2 separate regions of the Homo sapiens genome follow, and region 2 is reported to be linked to region 1. The links are microRNA targets in miRTarBase. Many come from high-throughput screens and were not tested one by one. Region 1 holds a microRNA gene; the other region holds the end of a gene's coding sequence.
What was found. The annotated mature microRNA hsa-miR-190a-3p reads CUAUAUAUCAAACAUAUUCCU and lies in region 1 at 3,949-3,969, shown strand. An mRNA with a match to its seed (bases 2 to 7 or 8) in the 3' UTR can be bound and repressed. Matches are read on the target gene's strand: a 7mer-m8 pairs with bases 2 to 8, a 7mer-A1 pairs with bases 2 to 7 and ends in A, and an 8mer does both.

Region 2: the mRNA of APOOL is a reported target of hsa-miR-190a-3p. Seed matches in the 3' UTR shown: 7mer-m8 at 1,505-1,511, 7mer-m8 at 1,507-1,513, 7mer-m8 at 1,509-1,515, 7mer-m8 at 1,711-1,717, 7mer-A1 at 4,787-4,793 and 8mer at 6,491-6,498.

Annotation. Positions count from the first base shown.
Region 1 is chr15:62,820,060-62,828,383 of GRCh38, forward strand. It overlaps MIR190A (microRNA 190a), which reads left to right and starts at 3,898; the gene lies at 3,898-3,982. It overlaps TLN2 (talin 2), which reads left to right. Exons shown (of 59, transcript NM_015059.3): 54 at 427-551.
Region 2 is chrX:85,086,490-85,094,091 of GRCh38, forward strand. APOOL (apolipoprotein O like) reads left to right here. Exons shown (of 9, transcript NM_198450.6): 9 at 1,101-6,826. The coding sequence ends at 1,189. It overlaps SATL1 (spermidine/spermine N1-acetyl transferase like 1), which reads right to left. Exons shown (of 8, transcript NM_001367857.2): 7 at 6,696-6,736; 8 at 5,795-6,072. The coding sequence ends at 5,902. Among named protein-coding and RNA genes, the nearest start is that of APOOL, 86 kb to the left of the region's middle.

The DNA.
Region 1 (8,324 bases):
CTTTACTTTGAATTAAGGTGAGGGGTCAGTCCTCCTGGGTTCCAGGGAGAAGAGAATGGCAAATTCCTGTGTGATGTACAGCATAGTGTAGTGTCTCCTGAGGATGCTTACTTAGATTCATGAGCTTTAAGTTCAAAGTCAGAGCAAAGCTCAAGCCTTGGTCCGTGAGATCATTTTTGAAGCTGCTTGGTGACTGCTCTGTGGAAGGGCCATACATGCAACTGATTTAGAAAACCAGGATTAGCACCCCCACCCCCCACCCCCATCCAGATGGCCTTTATGAGAGACGGAAGGAAGGTTCCTTAGGACAATGCAGGTCAGGCTCCTGGAGCCTTCATGCATGCAAATCCAGATAGTGTTTTTAATTAAGCCAGTGCCCTGAGGTCTGCAGCTATGAAGAATCACCTTCTTTTGGACTGATTCTAGGAACAGAGTGGGTGGATCCAGAAGACCCAACTGTCATTGCAGAAACAGAGTTACTGGGGGCTGCAGCATCCATCGAAGCTGCTGCTAAGAAGTTAGAGCAACTGAAGCCAAGAGCAAAACCAAAAGTAAGTGTTCATTTATGGTTGGCTGTCCGATGTCAGTGGGTTCTTCCAGTGGGTGGCTGTGAAATGGAGCTAGGAGTGCTGCAGGGAGCTTGGCTCCTTCCTTATGGTCAGACTAGCAAGCAGAAAACCGGATCTACCTGCCCGGCACTGCTTTAGAGTATGGGGGTAAAAAAATGGCTGATGAGTCTTTCAAGTTAACCACCCAGAAAAATTCCTCTGAGTATCCAAAGGAAGAATTGGGGCATTTGCAGTCTTGATTTAGTTCATTATCTAAAGCAGGTGTTGGATGCTTTCTGTCAGAAGTTGCTGTTACTGGAGAGGAGATTGTTAGCCTCCAATTTTCTGGTTTCTCTTTTGCTTTTTACAAAGAAATAGCACTGCTGGGAATCAGAGGGCAATGAGAACTTCAAAAGTGCACCCACTCCAGGCTTTGTCAGTATATGCTGGAGAGGATGGGTAGCTGGTATGTTTTTTCCTTCTGTGTTTGTCATGTAGATAAATGTTTAAAACTTAAGATTATAGGTATATGTGAAGAGAAATAGCCATTTAAAGGAAAGAGATACTTTTAGATTAGGCAGGAGGAAGGACACTTTCTAAATAAAAGGATGACAAGCTAGTGCTGTCTCCAGGGGCAAAGCCCCAATCCTGTTAAGCTAATACCTCCTACCCCACCTTCCATAGCTGTCTTCAGCAGGAAAATGGTAGAACCAGAGGCGGCCTGTTTTTCTTCCTATTCAAGTAAGTCCCTGGTGGTGCATGTAACTCATCTATTTCCAAGGACCCAGATATACTAGGAAATAATATTTGGCTTTTCCCCTCAAAAAAGGGCTGGATTCCACCAATTTAGGTATACCTAAAAATTTACCTATTTTTGTAAGACCAAGGGATGGAGTCTGGGCCCTGAAACAGAGCAGACCACTCAAAAGCAGTGCCTGGGCCAGTGTAGTGTATGAAATAAACACAGACTGAGTCTGTTCAGCTTGGGAACATTATTAAAACCTTCGAGTGCTTAGAACCAACCTCCTAATAGTCGCTCTGGACTTGGTAAAGGCACTTAAACGTTTTCTCATCAAGATGTAACTTAAGGATTTGGGCTTCTGATTGTGGGGTTTACCAGGGCTCTCTCTGCTGGACTCTACCTGGGAGTCTTGGGTTGCCTGATATTGTCAGAGTAAGAGCCAAGTGTGGGTGTTGGGACAACTCCATTTTCTGGTTACGCCTTTGTTTCTGCTTTGTCAGTCAAGTTAATCGTGAATGAAAAGTGTACTTTAAACTTAAGAGTCAACCATTAACTAAGATTTAGAGGTTTGGTGCATGATGTTTTTCCATTTCCTTGTCTGATTTATCACGATGGCCTTTCTTGGGGAGGGCTCTGTCCGCTAATGCCGAAGCCATGTCAGTTGACACATTCGTTCTCCTGGAGAATTAGCCTGGTGCTAATTTAACATTAACACTTCACCATATTCTAAGAGCTCCTGTTTCAATGTCTTTCCCTTTGTCCTTCCGCAGGGTCCTTCTGAGCTCTTGTCTGAGTCCTGGTTTCCCCGTGTCTGGTCGTTCACTTCACGACTCCAGATGGGAAAACAAAATTATTAAAGTTCCTACCCCATAGGATTATTGTTATAATAATTAAATAAGATAGTATAAGAACACTGCCTGACATACAGTGAGACTTGGTAGATAGTAACTATATCACCATTATTATCACCATCATCACTGAAAATGTGTGTCTGGGACTTACTCCCTAGGAAATGCCTGAAATAAAAATTATTCCACTGGCCCCTGAAGAAAGAAAACCAGGAAGCTCGCGTTGTTCAGCTGCCAAGCCTGTGCCAGGCAGTCTTCTGGGTACTTTATGGGAGTCACTCATCTGATCCTTGGAAAAAGTCCATTAGAATCAGAAGCACCAAGAGGCGAATTACCTTGCCAGGGTCCGACCACTGTCACTCAGCTGGGAGGGCTATGTATGGCCCTGGGTGGCAGTTTCAGTCCATACCAGCCCCTGTTTCCCACCCCATTGTCAGAGAAGGCTTGTCTAGTCCCACAAAGGCCATTTGTAGTTTATGTGTGCCCTTAGAGCTACTCCTCGAAGGAATATTATGCAGCTATAATATTATGCAGCTATGAAAAATAATGGTTGCTAGGACTGTGTAGCACGAAGAAAATGCTCATGGTATAACAGAAAGGATGCAGAATTATGTACTTATTATGATTACAACTCTAAAAACTCACAGATGAAGAAAATAAGTAGGGAATGTACAAGAATGATGATGGAATTGGGATGATGGAAGGGTCTGTGTTTTAACATTTTATAAAACAAAGGTTTAAAAAATAACAGCACCTTAAAAATTAATGACTGCTGAAGTAGGCCTGTGAGGACTCCCTACAGTACTCTAGGATCATATAGCCTTTGTGTTTACATTGAGGGTTTTTACAGGAAAGCCAAGGAGTCCTTCGGCCAAGGTCAAGGTTAACATAACTGATGATGTGAATCCTTTGTTTGAGGGTTCCTACCTTAGCTCACTCCCATCGTATTAGGAAGGGTGATGGGTACTTCTAGAATGCTTCACAATGGTCTGAAGTCTTTCTCTGCCTGATGGCCAGAGGTGGATATTATCTATGAAACTGTTTTGGAAAACCTGCAACCCAAACCATAGTTTTTGTGCCTAATAGGGCACATTGCAATAACTTTTGCATGAAATATCTTCCTTGCCTTTATAAAGGAATTTATTTCCCCAATTAAAAAACAATAACAACAATCTGCACCAAAATCAGCCAGTCTTTTGAGTTGAATCACTTCTCTCCATTCTCTCCCAAAACCTTAAAAAAATCCTCAGGGTACTGTCAGTAAACAATTGCTTATTACATCCCTATAACCCTACCCTGGTACACACACATGCCTTCAGTATAAAATGGATGTGTGTTCCTTCTGGGGAGTATTCACACTGCTTTCAGGAAGAGTTTGGGGAGAGACAGTAATTTTGTCTAAAATGCTCTGCTCACCACCGTCTCAGGTTGCCTGTTTTTAAAGGAGAATGGCTCATGGTCTTTGATGATGATTCTGGTACATTTCCACCTCAGGCTCTTAAAACTTAAGCATCACTTTTTGCCTGGGATCTCCCAGACATGCACCGTTGAATCTGCTGTTCACCTGGGGAGATGAGAATGTCAGTGAGCGCTGGTGCATGTGCTGACAGTATTGTTAATGGCGCCGTTTCCACATCTGCAGGCAGACTTGTGCTCCAAAGACAGTTATCGGAGTTGCTGCAAAAGTGACCACCCCCTGCAGCCGTAACCTTCAATACTGTGCCTAGTCTCGAGCTCAGTCAAACCTGGATGCCTTTTCTGCAGGCCTCTGTGTGATATGTTTGATATATTAGGTTGTTATTTAATCCAACTATATATCAAACATATTCCTACAGTGTCTTGCCCTGTCTCCGGGGGTTCCTAATAAAGTTTATAAGGCAACAGGAAAGAACACGTTAAAATCACAAGTAGATTTAGAAGATGGAGCACTCATTACAATTCATGTTATCTTCCATTTCTTCTTATAGCATTTGAGACCTGTATCAGTATTACTGGATTACTTGCTTATTATAGAAACAATAAGTGTTGATGTTTCATAAGAGCCTGGGGTATTCTGTGTGGCTTAGTTTTGTGCAGTGATGAATCCTTAAGGAATTCAATATGCTTGGTGGAAAAAACGGTTCCAACCCATGTCTGTGACACAGAATAAAGGTCAGGATTATAGCCTCAAACACATCTAGATTCATGTTTCATTTTGGTTCATTTTTATCCTGATCTTCAATTTAGAAGTTCATGTCAGGGTTTCAGCAAAAATTCAAGGAGCACAGATCAGTTTTCTATGACTTCCCTTTCCACTCACAGTAACAGAATGTATAAAGCAAATCCTCCATACCAGCTGCATGGATACTGAGTCAGTGAGCTTTGTACAAACCTTGGATATAGGACTAAATATATCTCATGAAGGTAATATAATGTTGACTGAACTCTTGAATTTCCTGTTATAGGTTAACTTGTCAGTGGAGGTTGGTAATATTTAGAATAAGCCAACAATCGGAAAGTAATATCATAGCCTAATTGACTGTGGCAGGAAGTTTGGGATTATGATATAGAAAACATTTTTTCTGGTACATAACAGCCTTCTTTGGTTGGTTTTGACCTCTTCCTTATAGAAAAGCCTGTGAAGTATGTGTGAGTTCATTCTGAGTTCTCTCAACAAACAAAATACTTTGTGAGCACTGCTTTCTGGAAAGAGAACTACTGTTCTCAATGTTTTGGAGGAGAAAAGGTGTAAGCAAATGGTTTAAACAGGTAGTCATGAAAGCTTCCCCTTACTGTGTCTAGAAGTCATTGCCACATTGCTTACAGGTGAATGCATAGTGACAGGGTCACCAACAGCAACATCAGAGAGGTGATGACACAGGAGAGGGTCCTGTAATGTTGGAGTCCTGGCTTCTGGAGTTACATAATGGATCCTGTCTCTGGAATCCTTCTCCATTGAGAAGCGATCTGTGTGTGTTGGCAGGTGCTCTGTCAGGCGGGTTTCAAGATGCTGCCCCAATCAGTCCCTCCTTCACACAGCTAGAGAACACCGGCTTTGGTTTTGAGTCCAGTTACATTGTTTGACTGAAATGGCAAATGGCCATGGAAAAGAGACAGCAAGTTATTACGAACAAAGAAAAACATGGTTTCAAAAGGACCTGCAGACGAAGCCCAGTTGTTTGAATTGATGTGATTTTCTTGTTTCTTTGGGTGACTTTGTCACTGACCAGCATGTTCTCTGTAGTGATTAATATGGTGAAGGGAAAAAGGAACCAACTGTTCAGGAAGGAGGAGGACAAATACAGCATTTTCTGTATGGCTGCACTTGGGCTTTGAGTGGCACTCATTGGTTCCAGACCAGGAGCATACAGGGTGTGAAAAGCAAGTATGGGGCCGGGCATGGTGGCTCACACCTGTAATCCCAGCAGTTTGGGAGGCCAAGGTGGGCGGATCATTTGAGGTCAGGAGTTCGAGACCAGCCTGACCAACAGCTGGGTTTCACCCAGTCTCTACTAAAAATACAATATATATATAAATATAAATATATATAAAAATATATTTTTATATATATTAAATATAATTATAATTATATATTATATAATATATTATATATTATAATATATATTATATATTATATTATAATATATATTATAATATATAATATATATAAATATATTATATATATATATATTTATATATATATATAATAAGTCAGGCATGGTGGTGCACGCCTGTAGTCCCAGCTACTCAGGAGGCTGAGAATCGATTGAACTTGGGAGGCGGAGGTTGCCGTGAGCCGGGATCGTGCCACTGCACTCCAGCCTGGGTGACAGAGTGAGACTCGGTCTCAAAAACATAAATAAATAAGAAAAGCAAGTATGGGAGACTCCCCTCCAGGGTAGACCAGTAGGTCCTTGTCAGATCCTTCACAGACACAGAAAGGGGGCTTAAGATGTAGGGAGTTTATCTGATACAGCTTGGGAAGAACCCTGTTATCTTTTGTCTGTGCTTTCTATATCGACATTCAAGGGCCCCTTAAACAGAAATAGTGATTAAAAGATTATTTCAGTGGCGTTGCTTTCCATTTTGAACACAAAAGTAAAGCAATGGATACTATGGGAAAACTACTCCCAAGATACTAATCATGCAGGTGCGGACCTTTTCCAGCAGACACTGCATGAACTCGCGCGTATTCCTCGGATGCGGAGGGTGTGGTCCCTCCCCAGTCACAGGCACAGCCATTTGGCAGTTTCTCTGCCACCCATTTTGCCTGTTTAAGGTCTCTCTGGAGCTTTCCCTGAGACAAGGCCAGCTGTCCATGCCTGGCTCTTAGCAGTTCCAGTTGTTCTGGGAGGTGTACCTTTTGTTTGAACTAATAAAGGTGGCAGTCCTGAAGCCACCCCATCCATGGGTCCTCCAGAGGAGAAGCTGATCTAACCTTTGCACAGTTTGGGGCTTTGCATACAGGCTAAGGCCTCCCTCAAGGCACCTCTCAGTTCAATACCAGAAGCAAACTAGTAGCAGCCAAACTTGCAACAACAAAAAAAAAAGAGAAATGTGGCTGCCTGCTCCACTCCGGCTTCCAACTGGCAGGAAAATGCCTCACTCCTGTTGTGGGAGTTCTAGACACTGGCCTCCTTTTTTCCCTCAAGGACATTTAAATTAAATGCAAAATGTTCACACTTTAAAAAATATATATCCAAGAGGGTTTTTTTAAAGTTTCTGATGCACTATGACCTTATTTTTAGTAGCAGGCATTCTGCAAGACTCTGAGTAACACAGAGCAAAGCCTGAGACCCCACTGGAAAGATGACACGGGTGGTTCTTCAGTTTGTGGAGCCAGTTGTGAGAAGGGCGACCATTGTGTTTTTAGCTCTCAACAAAGCATTCCCTCAAAGTAAGTTTTCAGGGAGGGAGGCAAGCCCTTTGGCCATCTCCTATGCATGCCTTATGCTCCTTCACCTTCAAGTTCATTGGCGGAAGGAGCTGTGGGGTTGCAGGGCATAAGAAAAGGCCAAGAAAAAGACCATGGGAGGACATTCTCTTCCCCTGCCCAACACTTGCCCAGGACCTGACAAGGACAGTGAGCAGGGGAAGTGGGTAAGGACGTTGAGGAGGAGCGGGGGCAGTGGGGGATGTTGGTAAGGATATTGAGGAGGAGGTCAAGAGAAATCAGAAGAGAAAAGGTAGTTCCTGCTTATTTTAGTCACCGCCTTCTAAGAGAAGTTTAATTTGGAACTGTCCATGTCTAGGCAAAAGGACCAGGAAGGTTGAGTTGCTCCTCCAGTGACAGAAAACTGAGTAACTGATACCTGGAGAAAGGGCAGCGAAGACTCCACAGTCACATAGTCAAAGTACAGAACAGTGACTACCACCCGGATTGTCCCACTCCTGGTTGGGTGCTGAGAGAGGAGCTGGTGCCCATCTATGCTGTTTGGTACCTGACGCTTACTGATTTGTGGGTTTTACTTATAATGAATTTAGGCTGTAATCAGAAATAGCAAGAAGAATTTTTATTGGAATTATGGATACATAACAGGGTTTAGACAGAGAAACAGATTAATTTAGCCCCAAACCTGAAAAAAACAATTTTTGATAATGAAATTGCTAATAGTTTTTGAGCATCTCCTATGAGTCAGCCATGCTTTACATATACTAATCACGTGCTTGTAATGACTCCATCAGATAGGTTAGGAGGGGAAGTAGGCTTAGAAGATGAATGAATTAGTGTGAAGACCATGTTCTCAGAATCCATGAAAGGCCAAATGTCAAAAGAAACATGAGGAAAGGCTGTCCCTTTTACCTTCTCCACTTTCCACACCACTTCCCCTACCACCACCATTTCCTCTTCCAGGGGACATATAGCTACTGAAACTTTAAACCCATCAGAGCAACATAAAGGGGTCCCAAATACTCTCCCAACTGGGAAACAGGGGAAGGGAGCCAACCCAATATATAGCCTTTCCCAAGAGGGATCTCACCAGACCACTGACTTTTTAAAGGGTGAGCAAGGAAGGTCAGCATGCAGGGAAGAGGTCAACTACAGGGTACTCAGACCTTTCTAGAAGCTACCAAAAAGCCCAGGTAGGGATAAATCTGTCCTCAGCAAGAGTTGGCCAGACAGCCCAGGAAAGACGATTGCTTAGAGCTGATGGGCACCTGGCCAAATAGCCTTTTCAAATGAAGGGGAAGGGGGAAAAGAACAGT
Region 2 (7,602 bases), not on the chromosome of region 1:
CTCTCTCACAAGACATAGTCAGTCCATTTAGGAAATCTTGTCTATTCTACCTTCAACATTATCCAGAATCTGGTACCTTTTCACCACTTCTACTTCCACCATCCTAACTAAAGCCCTCAGCATGTCTTCTGGAGTATTGTAATTGCTTTCTAACTGGTCTCCCTGCTTCTATCCCTTGTTTCCCTATAGTTTCTTTTCCCCATAGCCAAGAGTGATTTTTTTTTTTTTGAGACGGAGTCTCGCTGTGTCTCCCAGGTTGGAGTGCAGTGGCGCGATCTCGGCTCACTGCAAGCTCCGCTTCCCGGGTTCACGCCATTCTCCTGCCTCAGCCTCCCAAGTAGCTGGGACTACAGGCGCCCGCCAACACGCCCGGCTAATTTTTTGTATTTTTAGTAGAAACGGGGTTTCACCGTGTTAGCCAAGATGGTCTTGATCTCCTGACCTCGTGATCCGCCCGTCTCGGCCTCCCAAAGTGCTAGGATTACAGGCGTGAGCCACCGCGCCCGGCCGAGTGATCTTTTTAAAAACATAGCATCATTCACTCCTCTACTCAAAATTGTCCAGTAGCTTCTCATCTCACTTAAAGCCAAAATCTTTACCATGGCCCTGTGTGACCTAGCTTTCCATTGTCTTTTTGATCACATCTCCTATCATCTCACTGCCTTGCCGCCACCCCTACATACACCACATTTGTCTACTGTGTTTCAACCATATTGGTTCCTCAGACATACCTCAGGTCCATTACACTTGCCGTCTGCTCATCCTGGAAGGCATTGCCTGCTGGTATCTATAGGGTGCACACCCTCACCTCCTTCAGTTCTCGGCTCATGTATCACCTTTCCAGAAGGCTTTCCCTGGCTGCCCTATTTAAAATTACAAATCACCTAAGCACTCCATATATCCTTCCTTGTTTCATTTTTTCACATAGCACTTAACCACCATCTGATATATATTTAATTAGTTTGTCTGTCTCACCTAACTCAAATGTTAGGTCTGTGTCACTAGAGATTTTTATCTGGTTTGTTCGCTGCTGTCTTCCCAGTATCAAAAATAAATTTGTTAAGTGACTAATTTTTCTTTTCATTTTAATACTTTATCAGGTGCAACCCAGTTTATGCCTGACCCCAAGCTCATGGATCACGGGCAGTCCCACCCAGAAGATATAGATATGTACAGCACTAGAAGCTGAAGTAGACTGCATGCAGAGACTACACAGAAAACTACAAGATGTGTGGCGTTGCAAATAATGATGAAAATAAATCATGTAATGGGTAACTGATACATAGAGTATTACCTAAACCAAGTTTCTCCCTTACATTTCCAAATATGCCATTTGATAAATTACATAAGTGGTTAACACACAAACTGTGAATGCAGTGTAAACAATATTAAATGATTGATGAGGAGACTTAGGTAGAAGTATTAGCTTGCATTTGATGACCTTTAAGGGCACTTAAAAAAAAATGAAGACATGAATTCTAGTGAGATTAAAATCTAAAAATACATATATATATATGTATGTATAAATACATACATATTTATACATGTATAAATACGTATTTATACATATATGTATAAATACATATACATATATGTATAAATACATATACATATTTATACATATATGTATAAATACATACATATTTATACATATATGTATAAATACATACATATTTATACATATATGTATAAATACATACATATTTATACATATATATGTATAAATACATACATATTTATACATATAAACATATATTTCTGCTCTAGCTTTCCCAGATTAATGCTAGTTAAATTAGAATGGTGTATGGAAAGGTGTGTTTCCCTCTGTTTTTTTTTTTTTTTTTTTTTTTTTTTTTCCCATTTCCTAGAGCTGGAATAAAATATCCATGTTTTATGGGACTTGAGCTTGGCTTTGTCCCTTGGTTTTGTTAATGTTAATTCCTCTTAAATATCTAAAAACATCTCTACCTATTTGAGAGGGCCATATGCTACACAGGCTTCCTAATACTGCTTAGCAATCCTTCTACTGGTTCCTAAGTGGTTTACTATTGTGTTCCCTGGAAGAGGTATTACAAACGTTTTATTCTTCTCAAGCCTCTTAGAACTGTCAAAGTTGACTGTGCCTCCTATTTCATAGAGAAAAAACTAAATTATTAGATATGACCATTCCCAAAACTTCTTCCCATCTACCTTCAAGACTTACCTCTTTTCAGCCATGCATCCCCCTTTTCTAAGACATGCTTCTCTTTGTGTTCTTGACCTCATTCCTTCCCATCTAAGACCATATTCCACCCTGTTTAATTTCTAGTCTTCGGTTTCTCTTTTTACAGTGAGCAAATTAGAAGAATAGGTTAGAAGAATAGGGTAGTAGATACTGTAGTTTCTTTCCTCCACCTCTACATAGCTGCAGGTCTTCTCTGTCTTAAATCAACAATAACAAAACAAGACAAAAACCTTTCCTTAACTTGGCCTCTTCCCTTGAACTATTTTTTCTCTCTCCTTCCTATAATTGTTATACTTCTTTAAAAAGTAATTGTTACTTTTTGACAAAAGTAAATATTGTCCCTTTTTTCCCTACTTTCAAGTCCTCTCTGTCTTGTGACATTCTGGCCTCCATACCTGCTTAATTTTTTTTGAGATGGGGTCTTGCTCTGTTGCCCAGGCTGGAGTGCAGTGGCACAAACACAGCTCACTGCAACCTCCACCTCCCAGGATCAAGCAATCCTCCCATCTCACCCTCCCAAGTAGCTGGGACTATAGGCACCCGCCACCATGCCTAATTTTTTGTATTTTTGGTAGTGACAGGGTTTCACCATGTTGTCCAGGCTGGTCTCGAACTCCTGAGCTCAAGCATCTGTCCGACTCAGCCTACCACAGTGTTGGGATTACAGGCGTGAGCCACCGCACCCAGCCCCTACTTGAATTTTTATGTCATTATTGACTCTTCACCACTCTCTCCTTGAGACTCACTTATCCCTTTGCTCTCTATTTTTCCTGCTTTTGTTATTCTTCATTTTTCTTCTCTTGCTCTGAATCCCTTAAATGCTGAGGCTGCTCAAGTTTCATCCCTAGTCCTATTTTCTCATTCTATATGCACACTCATTTTTCATTTAACAGACTTCACTGGCTTCAGGCACCATTTGTTTTATTATTCATATTTTCAACCCCCATATCTCTCTAGTGCTGTAGACCTTTATTTCTACTTACTAGTTATATTCACCTAACATCCCATAGATATGCCAATGTCAATGTGCCTAAAACAAAATTGTCTCTACCTCCCGCTCCTTCAAATCTATTCTGTCTTCTCTAATCCTATAATTACTCTCCCTCAAGTCATCATCATCACTTTTCTGGGTTACTGTAATAGCCTTCAGGCTAATTTGCTCACTGTCAATCTTGCTGTCTCTCATTTCAGAATATGTTCTGCTTGCAGGTGACAGTAAACTAGTTAAACAAATATTTAATATTAGCTTAAGCAAAAAAAAAAAAAAAGGCCTATCCTATTTATAGCCTAGAATTAGGCAGTATAGGGTTGGGACAGTGGCTCATTGGTGCTATCAAGGACGTAGACTTTTTCTCTTTCCACTCTGTCCTCTACAGCATGCTGGTTTGTCACCTCATGGTCACAAGATGTCTGCTGTACCTCCAGGGAGCAGATACACATTCAAAGTAGGAAATAGCAGATAAAAATGTACACAAGATGCGTCTGACTCCCTTTTACCAGAAAAGTAAATGCTTTCTTAGAATCTCCTCAGAAGACCTCTGTGTATATCTCAACCAGTACTTGTCATATAGCCACACACTTAGCTCAAGGAAGATAGGGAATAGGGAAATCATGTTTCTTTTCCCCTGTGGTGAGGAAGGCAAGGGGTAAGGGGTTGGGAACAGGTGCTGAATTAAAGCTAACATACAGTATCTACTACCCTATTCTTCTAACCCATTTGTCTATTATGATATAGTTGTCTTGACAACTATAATGAATAGCTGTCTTTCTGAAATCTTTAGTGGCTCATCATTGCCTGCAGAATCAAAACTCCTTAGTCTGATATACAAGGCCCTTCATATCTGATTCCAGCTTACCTTCTAATCCTATCTTCCCTCTCCTTACCCACCCTACTGCTAATGTGTATTATATTGTCTTTATGACATACCATTTGTTTCTTGAACATGCTTTGCTCATTATTGCCTCTTTCTCTGCCTGTGCTAGTGTGTCCTCTTAGAATGTTCTTCCATCTTATCCTGCTCTACATTCTAACTTCTACCCATCCTACAAGTCCAATTCCAGTGTCATGTTCCCTTTCTCAATCCTCCAGGGTAGAATTTAGATGTTCTGTCTTTTAGAGATAGGTATTGCTATGTTGCCCAGGCTGGTCTCAAACTCATGGCCTCAAGCGATCCTCCCACCTCAGCCAACCAGACATGAGTGACTGTGCTCAGCCTTTTTTAAAAAAATGAAGGTATTTGGTATGGCCGGGTATGGTGGCTCACACCTATAATCCCAGCACTTTGGGAGGCCAAGGTGGGTGAATCACCTGAGGTCAGGAGTTTGAGACCAGCCTGACCAACATAGTGAAACCCTGTCTCTACTAAAAACACGCAAAAAGTGCAAAATTAGCTAGGCGTGGTGGCTCATGCCTGTAATTCCAGCTACTTGGGAGGCTGAGGCAGGAGAATCACTTGAATCCGGGAGGTGGAGGCTGCAGTGAGCCGAGATCGTGCCATTGCACTTCAGCCTGGGCACAAGAACAAAACTCAGTCTCAAAAAATAAATAATAAAAAATAAAGGTATATAATATGTCTTAGATTTGATGAAATATGAGTGTGTTTGAGATCTGATCCAAGGTTTTAAAAAATTCATTTCAAATCCTGGAGATAAATTCTGAGGAGCTTACTTATGAAAAACTAGCAAGTGATAGCTGGTATTTACAGATATGGTACTTTACACAATTTATGTAATTAATATTTTCTCACAGACAAGGTTCCTTGTGGATATCACTGAATAATTTTTGTGTAGTTTCTATGCCCATGAAGTGCCTGGTAGGTAGTAGGAACTCACACGTTCTGCTATGCTGGTTGCAGCACAGGACACAAAAGTTAGAATTATTTCAAAGGACTTATACTCTACTAGGAAAGAGAGAAACATAGAAATATAGTGTTGTATGTGGTATCTTCCCTAAGATAAGTACAACCAAAGAGCTATGGATGTTCAGAGATAGAATGTAGTACTGGGATGATGTCAAGGAGGCAGTGGTACTTAAGCTGCTCAAGGTAGGGAAGCAGTTTACTTGCTAGTTTTTCATAAGTAAGCTCTTCAGAATTTATCTCCAGTATTTGAAATGAATTTTTTTAAACCTCAGATCTGAATATATTCAAACACCCATATTTCATCAAATCTAAGGCATATCATATACCTTTAATTTAAAAAAAAATGCTGAGCAGAGTTGCTTATGTCTGGGAGGCTGAAGTGGGAGGATTGCTTGAGGCCAAAAGTTTGAGACCAGCCTGAGCAACATAGCAAGATCCTGCCTCTAAAAACAAACAAACAAAAAATGCTGCCAGTTGATCATTACATTTATCCCGACATCAGATATGTCAAATTGTGAAAAGCACCTTAATTTTGATGAAATATGATAGGTAAAAAATAGCGCAAAGCTAAGTATAAGTGACTTTTAAATTATCTGCTCTTTTGGATTATCACTACTGCTACTAGCCGTTAGAATATTGGTTTGGATAATGGAAAGTTGACTAGAGCTACAAAATCTGTTTCAAAATAAAAGATCTGCTCAAACAAGAATGTGATGATCACTTGCTGTATTGTACAACAAAGTCAAACTGCTGTTAGACTCAGGTGACAGTCAAATGTTGGAGGCTGTGTTGGGATGAGTTGTTACAAAGCCTCTTTCATTCTTCCCATGCCATGTCCAGGAGTTCTTCTCTGTTAAACCTGAAGAGATGCCAGCCCTCCTCAGAGGAAAGGTCTAAAGCCCCTCGACTAGTATAGTAGTTGATAGAAGCCTGGTTCCAAATGACGACAAGAAAGTGCATGCAGTTACATTGAGTTGTGATGGCTATCTGTTTAAAAACAAACAAGCAAATATTACTTTCATTTGAAAGTATAATCTTCGTTAACACATATATTTTATTGAAGGTCTACTCTATGCAAGACACTATGTGTGAATAATACTTCCAAATATAGTAGTTACCTTTTGAACTTTTCTATAGCTGTAAAAAGAAAAAAGTCTCACTGTTCTGAGCTTTAAAGCCCTCTTTAAAATCTCAAAACTGATTTGCAAAGCCTTTATCATACAGAAAAGGTGTACCTAAAAGAACACATGTTCTCATATGTTTCCAAAATACAAGAAGATCTTGCTTTTATAGTCTTGTAATATTCATACTGTGAGCCTGTGTTTTTGAATAAAAATGCTTTCTAATCTCCCTCCTTCTTACTTTCCCTTGATAGCAAAAAGGGTGTATAGTGTGGTTGTGGATTATATATAAATCAATTTTAATTGACTATAATTCATATACTGTATATGATCATCTGATTTGAAAATCCAGTTTAATTTGGGTAGAAATTTGAAGTATATGTTGGGGTTATGTTCAAATGGTGAGATTAATGATTTAATTTATGCCCTGTGAATATTTATTAAGAAAAGGTTAATGTATAGAATATCAATACTAATTGTAATACATACCTGACTTAGCCTCTTCAGCATTTCAGCTCCAATACCTAGGCCTTTTAAATAGACAATGCAAAGTGAAAACTGCAAATTTCACTTAACTTGTTATTTGCTTTAGTTTAAAATAAATAATATCTAAAACTCTGTATCTGTTTTTTGTATATTATTAATAGCTTCTGGAAACACAACTCGTGAATGCTTTCATATCCCTTTTTCCTAATTGGAATGACGTACCAAAGGTCATAGAAGAGTTTGGGTTTATTTTAAAGATCAGTGAAGAAGTGAGTCTCTGCCACTATTGTCTTATAACGGTATATTTCTTAGCTGTTTTTACTGAAAACCACCTAAAATGTGAAAGCATTTTTTAAAGATAAAAGTATAGCTGTGTGGCCTATACTCACACGATGGCTCACACATGTGATGGCACGATGGCTCACACCTGTAATCCCAGCACTTTGGGAGGCCAAGGCAGGAGGATCACTTGAGCCCAGGAGTTTGAGACCAGCCTGGGCAACACAGACCCTGTTTCTCCAAAAAATAAAGAATTAGCTGGGTGCTGTGGCACATGCCTGTAGCCCCAGCTACTTGGGAGGCTGAGGTGGGAGGATTGCTTGAGTGTAGGAGGTTGAGGTTACAATGAGTCGTGATCACACCACTGCATTCTAGCCTGGGTGACAGAAAACCCTGTCTCAAAAACAAAATAAAAAAATATATAGCCATGTGATAGCTTGGCTTATTCAAACCTTGAGAGGAACTAATAAAATGTTTTTCTAATCTGTGACTGAGTCTTCACAATCACAGATTAGATCAAACTCATTAGGATAGTGATCAAACTCATTAAGTAGCAATAAGTTACATTAACTAAAACACCGTATGTATAGTAAAGCCCTATCTCCTTAAAATATGTCACTTTAATTTTTAA